2 separate regions of the Homo sapiens genome follow, and region 1 is reported to be linked to region 2. Evidence: microRNA targets listed by miRTarBase, many of them from high-throughput screens and not tested one by one. Region 2 holds a microRNA gene; the other region holds the end of a gene's coding sequence.

What was found. The annotated mature microRNA hsa-miR-1295b-3p reads AAUAGGCCACGGAUCUGGGCAA and lies in region 2 at 830-851, opposite strand. An mRNA with a match to its seed (bases 2 to 7 or 8) in the 3' UTR can be bound and repressed. Matches are read on the target gene's strand: a 7mer-m8 pairs with bases 2 to 8, a 7mer-A1 pairs with bases 2 to 7 and ends in A, and an 8mer does both.
Region 1: the mRNA of TMEM38A is a reported target of hsa-miR-1295b-3p. Seed matches in the 3' UTR shown: 7mer-A1 at 921-927.

Annotation. Positions count from the first base shown.
Region 1 is chr19:16,687,811-16,690,898 of GRCh38, forward strand. It overlaps TMEM38A (transmembrane protein 38A), which reads left to right. Exons shown (of 6, transcript NM_024074.4): 6 at 334-2,213. The coding sequence ends at 561. Among named protein-coding and RNA genes, the nearest start is that of TMEM38A, 28 kb to the left of the region's middle.
Region 2 is chr1:171,099,475-171,102,627 of GRCh38, reverse strand. It overlaps MIR1295B (microRNA 1295b), which reads right to left and starts at 889; the gene lies at 830-889. The region is part of intron 2 of FMO3 (flavin containing dimethylaniline monoxygenase 3); the gene reads right to left. It overlaps MIR1295A (microRNA 1295a), which reads left to right and starts at 822; the gene lies at 822-900.

The DNA of each region.
Region 1 (3,088 bases), not on the chromosome of region 2:
TGGGAGGACACAGACCTTCAGACCTGCACTTAGCACAGCTTTTCTCTGAGCCCAGGTGTCGTGGGGAATTCTGGGGGATGGGTGACCAGCAGTCTCAGTGTGCTTGGAACTTTCCAGGGGTCAACACTTGAAATCTGGCATCCTGGGAAACCTGAGATGGTCGCCCATCATCCTGGGGGTGCATGCAGCCAGAGGGCTGGGTCTGGGCTACCTCCAACCTTGACTTTGATGACATTCTCTCCCCTCTTCTCCCCACCCTGCCCTCCACTCCTTTGCTTTCTACCTTGGTCTCCCTCTGTCTCTCTTGCTGTCTCCCTGGCCACCCCACCTCAGGTGTTTCTGACAGCCACCCACTCACACAGCTCCCCCTTTGATGCCCTGGAGGGCTACATCTGCCCCGTGCTGTTTGGTTCGGCCTGCGGGGGTGACCATCACCACGACAACCATGGTGGGTCCCACAGCGGTGGTGGGCCAGGAGCTCAGCATTCGGCCATGCCCGCCAAGTCCAAGGAGGAGTTGAGCGAGGGCTCCAGGAAGAAGAAGGCCAAGAAGGCGGATTAGGGGGTGGCCCAAGGGGCACCGGGGAGAGGACCCGGACCCAGGACCCTCTGAGCTGGGAGGCTTCCTGCGCTCAGATCTATCCTTTCCTGGCCTTGACTTCCCCATCTGCAAATCAGGGTCATTGGCTCACCCTCCAGGGCTGATGTGGGGGTTGAGATATGGGGATGAGGATGAAGAACTTTTGTAGAAATCGGGGTTCCCTCTTTCTCTCTGCCAGGACCCCATAGAGTCACAGCTTTTGGAGGGGTTCACAGAATCCTGGCAGCAGCTCCAGTCAAGAATGTCACTGGTTGGCATGATATTCTTAGTTGTATTTTTCCTTCTTTAAAATTGCATCTTGACCAGGCACAGTGGCTCATGCCTATAATCCTAGCACTTTGGGAGGCCGAGGCGGGCAGATCACCTGAGGTCAGGAGTTCAAGACCAGCTTGGCCAACATGGTGAAACCCCATCTCTACCAAAAATACAAAAATTAGCCAGACGTGGTGGTGCACGCCTTTAATCCCAGCTACTCGGGAGGCTGAGGCAGGAGAATCACATGAATCCAGGAGGTGGAGGTTGCAGTGAGCTGAGATCTTCCCACTGCACTCCAGCCTGGCCAATAAGACCTGTCTCCAGCAAGACCCTGTCTCAAAAAAAAAAAAAAAAATTGCATATTGACTCCTGAAGAACTTCAAGCCATGTTGAGATCCATTCATTTGATGGACATTTTCTAAGTACCTGTGAGCCAGGTGCTGCCATTTCAAAGTCTCTTCTTACCACGCTCCTCAGTGGCTAGACATTTTCACGTGGCCAGAAAGTCCCGACTCTTGCTGGGCGTCCCTGGACAAGTTGCCTTCCTCCTCTGAGCTTGGCGCTCCCCATCTGTATAGTGGAGACCCTTGGCCCCCCTCTGTACGGAAGGGCCGATGCGAAGCTGCAGTTAAAAAAGGCTCACATGCTCCTAGCCTCGTGCAGTCAGGAGGGGAGACCAGGACAGTTGGAAATTATGATTGCAAATGGCTTTGCATTTTAGATCATTCGTGTGTGTGGATCAGAGAAACGCACAAGTTCCCTGGCACAAAGGAAGCCCTCAGTAGACACGTCTAGGGCAGGCTTGAGAGATCAGATGGCGTGAAAGGCTTGTGATCTGTTCGTCTCAGGCTCCCCCTAAACCAAAGAAATGGAAACAGCTGGTTGGGGTTCCACGATCCAGCTCTATCAAGGGGCTCTGAGTGTGCACAGTTGGGACCTGGATGTATCAGGTCTCCCTCAGGCTGGAGTCCACTGTCACTCATTCAGCCATTGAACAAACATACAGATGCTTACCTGCTCTGTGGTCAGCCTTGTGCTGCTGCTGGGCGGGCCAGGAGCCTGCTTCAGTGTGAGCGAGGTGGATGATATTATAGCTGAAGGGTCCCTCCTGGTCACCCTCATCTCAGCCTAGGTCACCAGGATGTCTGAGAGGGGTGGGTGCATGGGACGGGCGTGGCCAGTCTCAGGTGAGGTTTGGGCCCAGACCTCGTTGGAGTCCCAGACGTTGCCAGGCTGTTGGAAAATTGCCTTGTTCCTGTGATGCCTGGGAGTTAGGTGGGTCCTGGGGAGGTTTCATCCTCTTGCTTGTCCACCTCAGCTCGGTGTGGAGGGGCAGCCAATAAATCATTGTGAATGAACCCTCATGGCTTGTCTGATTTATGCCTGGGATTTTGTTTTTTGTTTTTGTTTTTGTTTGAGACCGAGTCTCACTCTTGCCCAGGCTGGAGTGCAGTGGCCCGATCTTGGCTCCCTGCAACCTCCACCTCCCGGGTTCAAGCAATTCTCCTGCCTCAGCCTCCCGAGTAGCTGGGATAATAGGTGCCCGCCATCACACCTGGCTAATTTTTGTATTTTTAGTAAAAGCGGGGTTTCACCATGTTGCCATGCTGGTCTTGAACTCCTGACCTCAAATGATCCACCCACCTTGGCCTCCCAAAGTGCTGGGATTACAGGTGTGAGCCACTGAGCCCAGCCACATGCCTGGGATTTTGGCCTCAAGATGTGGGGATGGCTGGGCATGGTGGCTCATCCCTGTAATCTCAGCACTTTGGAGGGCTGAAGCGGGCAGATCACCTGAGGTCAGGAGTTCAAGACCAGCCTGGCCAACATGGTGAAACCCTGCCTCTACTAAAACTACAAAAATTAGTCAGGTGTGGTGGCAGGTGCCTGTAATCCCAGCTACTCGGGAGGCTGAAGCAGGAGAATCGCTTGAACCTGGGAGGTGGAGGTTGCGGTGAGCTGAGGTGGAGACATTGCACTCCAGCCTGGACAACAAGAGCAAAACTCATTCTTTAAAAAAAAAAAAAAAAAAAAAAGGCTGGGCATGGTGGCTCACACCTGTAATCCCAGCACTTTGGGAGGCCAAGGCAGGTGGATCACGAGGTCGGTGGATCACGAGTTCAGTAGATCAAGACCATCCTGGCTAACATGGTGAAACCCCATCTCTACTAAAAATACAAAAAATCAGCTGGATGTGGTGGCGGGCGCCTGTAGTCCCAGCTACTTGGGAGGC
Region 2 (3,153 bases):
TTTTAAAAGCTCTTCAGGTAATTTTAAGGTGCAGCCAAGTTTGTCAGTCACAATGTAGAGTTCAACAAATGGAAGCTCATGACCAACAGGCTACAGTTACTGTGGAAGAGCTTACCATAGGACACATCTGTTACAGCTGTGAGCTCTGCAAAGCAAGCTGTTGAATGAATAAAAGGCATTAAGTTAAAAAAAAATACTGGTTGGAGCATGATTAGGAAGAGGTGGAGCCTTGGTTTAGCTCTGTTGAAGCATCAAGGTACTTATATCTCAAGTTTCATGATGAAAGATCAGATTGTAGATCTCTATGTGTAGTTGCTAGTTCATAGTGGAAAGTACTGAGCACTAGAAACTTCTAATTAGAGCTCATCTAACTGAAAGTTGTCAGGGCTCCCAGAACATGAAATTTTAGTATAATATTGGAATATTACAATCACGTCAAAAGCCAATGTGGCTGCAGTTTCATTATTGACAAATAATTAATTGGCAGATTAGTTGCCATGTTCATTTCAGAAAGCAGCGTGTTCTTTAAATAGGACATGAGTTTTCTGCTGCTCACATGGTTTGTTGACTCTGCTATAGGCATGTGGGATGGGGAAGTGCAAAAATTTGTAGCTTTCTGTGAGTTGGGTAAGTTTAAAGAGATGATAATCAGCATAAAGAGAGAAGAAACATTAAAGAAAAAAATTGATACATAGTCCAGAAAAAAATCAGAGGAAGTTAAAAAAGGGAGGTATTCCCAGAAGAAAGCCACTATTCATAAAACTTCATGCAAAAATTCATATGATTTACTGATTTATTGTTTGGGGAGCTCCTGAGAAAAGAGGACATTTTGCCCAGATCCGTGGCCTATTCAGAAATGTGGCCTGTGATTAGGCCGCAGATCTGGGTGAAATGTCCTCCTTCTGTGACCAAAGAAGGTGAGGGAAATACATCATCGTGGCTCTAGATCAGGGTTAGAAGTCAGAACTAGAAGGGCATAGAAAGTGCTGTAGTAAACAGCTCCAACAGTTTCAACTATATGCACCCTTAGTGTTAGCTAAGTTTTAACCAATGTTTGGATCTCTCTGAAATTTAAAAAAAGTTAAGATAATGTAAAATGATGATGTTAGAAACCAAAGGGAAGGCAAATACAAAATTAGAACAATTTTATAACAATCTTATAATGTGAATACTAAGCCTATTGCTGCAGACTTCTAGTGATCTGAGAAACACTGCTGTTTGCTCCATCATTTGCAATCTATAAGCCCCCTCACAGTAGTAAAATAGGAAACGCTGAAAAACCAAAGGTATTAGTTTCTTGTGGCTGCTGTAATAAATTACCACAAAGTTAATGGCTTAAAATAATAGCAATTGATTCACAGTTCTAGAAGTCAGCAGTCGGGAATCACTATCAGTAGGCTGAAAACGAAGTGTGACAGTACCATGTTCATTTTCAGAGGCTCCAGGAGAGAATCCATTCCTTGCCGCTTCTGGCTTCTGGTGGATGCTGGCATTTCTTATTTTTTTCAGTGGCAAGACCCCTCTTGTACGCCTTCACTCATGGCTCCTCTGGCCATCATCAAAGATAGAGCATAGCATCTTCAAATTTCTCTCTTTCTGTTGAGGTCATCACATCACCTTCTCTCTTCTCTTTGTGTTAAATCTCCCTCTGCCTCTCTCTTTTAACGATGCATTCATTATAGCGTTTGGGGCTCACCCACATAATGCAGAAAAATCTCTCCATCTTAAGATTTTTAACTTAATTATATTTGCAAATACCCTTTTCTCTTGTAAGTAAGATAACATTTACAGGTTCCAGGAATTTGGATGTGATATCTTTGAGGAGGGGCATTGTTAAATTGTTCAGCCTATTACAGGCCATCCTCTGGTTCCCAAGGATTCACATCCATCCCATCTGCAAAATACATTAACCCAATCCCAACATCCTCAAAGTCTCAACCCATAGCAGCATGAAATCAAGTCTCAACTCTCATTTATATATTTTCAATTCAAAAGTCCAAAATCTCATCATCATATAAATTATCTAAATCAGGTATAAATGAGACTCTGGATATGGACCAGGATGAGGCAAAATTTCTATCTGTGAACCTGTGAAACTAGAAAACAAGTTATCTTCTTCCAAAATACAATGGTGGGACAAGCATGGGTAACCGTTATCGACATTCCCATTTAACCGGGGAGGAAAAAGGAGGAAAGAAAAGAATCACTAATCCCAAGCAATTTTGAAATCCAGTAGGACAAATTCCTTCAGGCTTGAAGGCTTTGGCTCAGGCCTCTGCCCTCAGGGCCTGAGGCTCTACCCTCTGGGCTATCCTTTCTTTTTCTTGAAGGGTAGCACATGTTGCAGTTCAGTTTTATCAACCTATGCTGCCAGGTTCAAATTTTAAAGTCTTCCTCGAGCAGCAAGAAAAGACAAATTAGCTGTCTTTGGCTGTGTTCCTCTCAATAGCCATATCAGCAGTGCGTTCTATCTTCAGCAACGTCTTGCAAACTAAATTTGAGTATGAGGCTTTGGTTAAGATCACTGTGTATAAGATATGGCTGGCCAGGAGTGGTGGCTCATGCCTATAATTCCAGCACTTTGGGAGGCCGAGGCGGGTGTATCACCTGATGTCAGGAGTTCGAGACCAGCCTGGCCAACATGGCGAAACCCCATCTCTACTAAAAATACAAAAATTAGCGGGGCGTGATGGCACACACCTGTAATCCCAACTATTCGGGAGGCTGAGGCAGGAGAATCCCTTGATCCCAGGAGGTGGAGGTTGTAGTGAGCTCAGATTGTGCCATTGCACTCCAGCCTGGGCAACAAGAGAGAAACTCTGTCTAAAAAAAAAGAAGAAGAAAAAAGAAAAAAAAAAAAAAAAAAAAGAAAGACATGGTCAGCTCGATAGGCCACTTGGTGAAATGGCAACCAGCAATTTACAAAGGAGTTAAGAATAGACTAGAGAGAAAGGCAAGCTTGAATTGGGATCTTTTCTCCACCATTATCAGCTGTATGATTTTTTTTCTTTTCTTTTAAAGCTTCAAATTCATTTGTAAAAGGAAAAAAAATATACCTAGCTTATAGGATTACTATAAATATTTAATTAAATAGAAAAAGTCATGTGTCATATAGAAAGTGCTTGATAAAATAGCCCTAAGTTTGGCCACAAA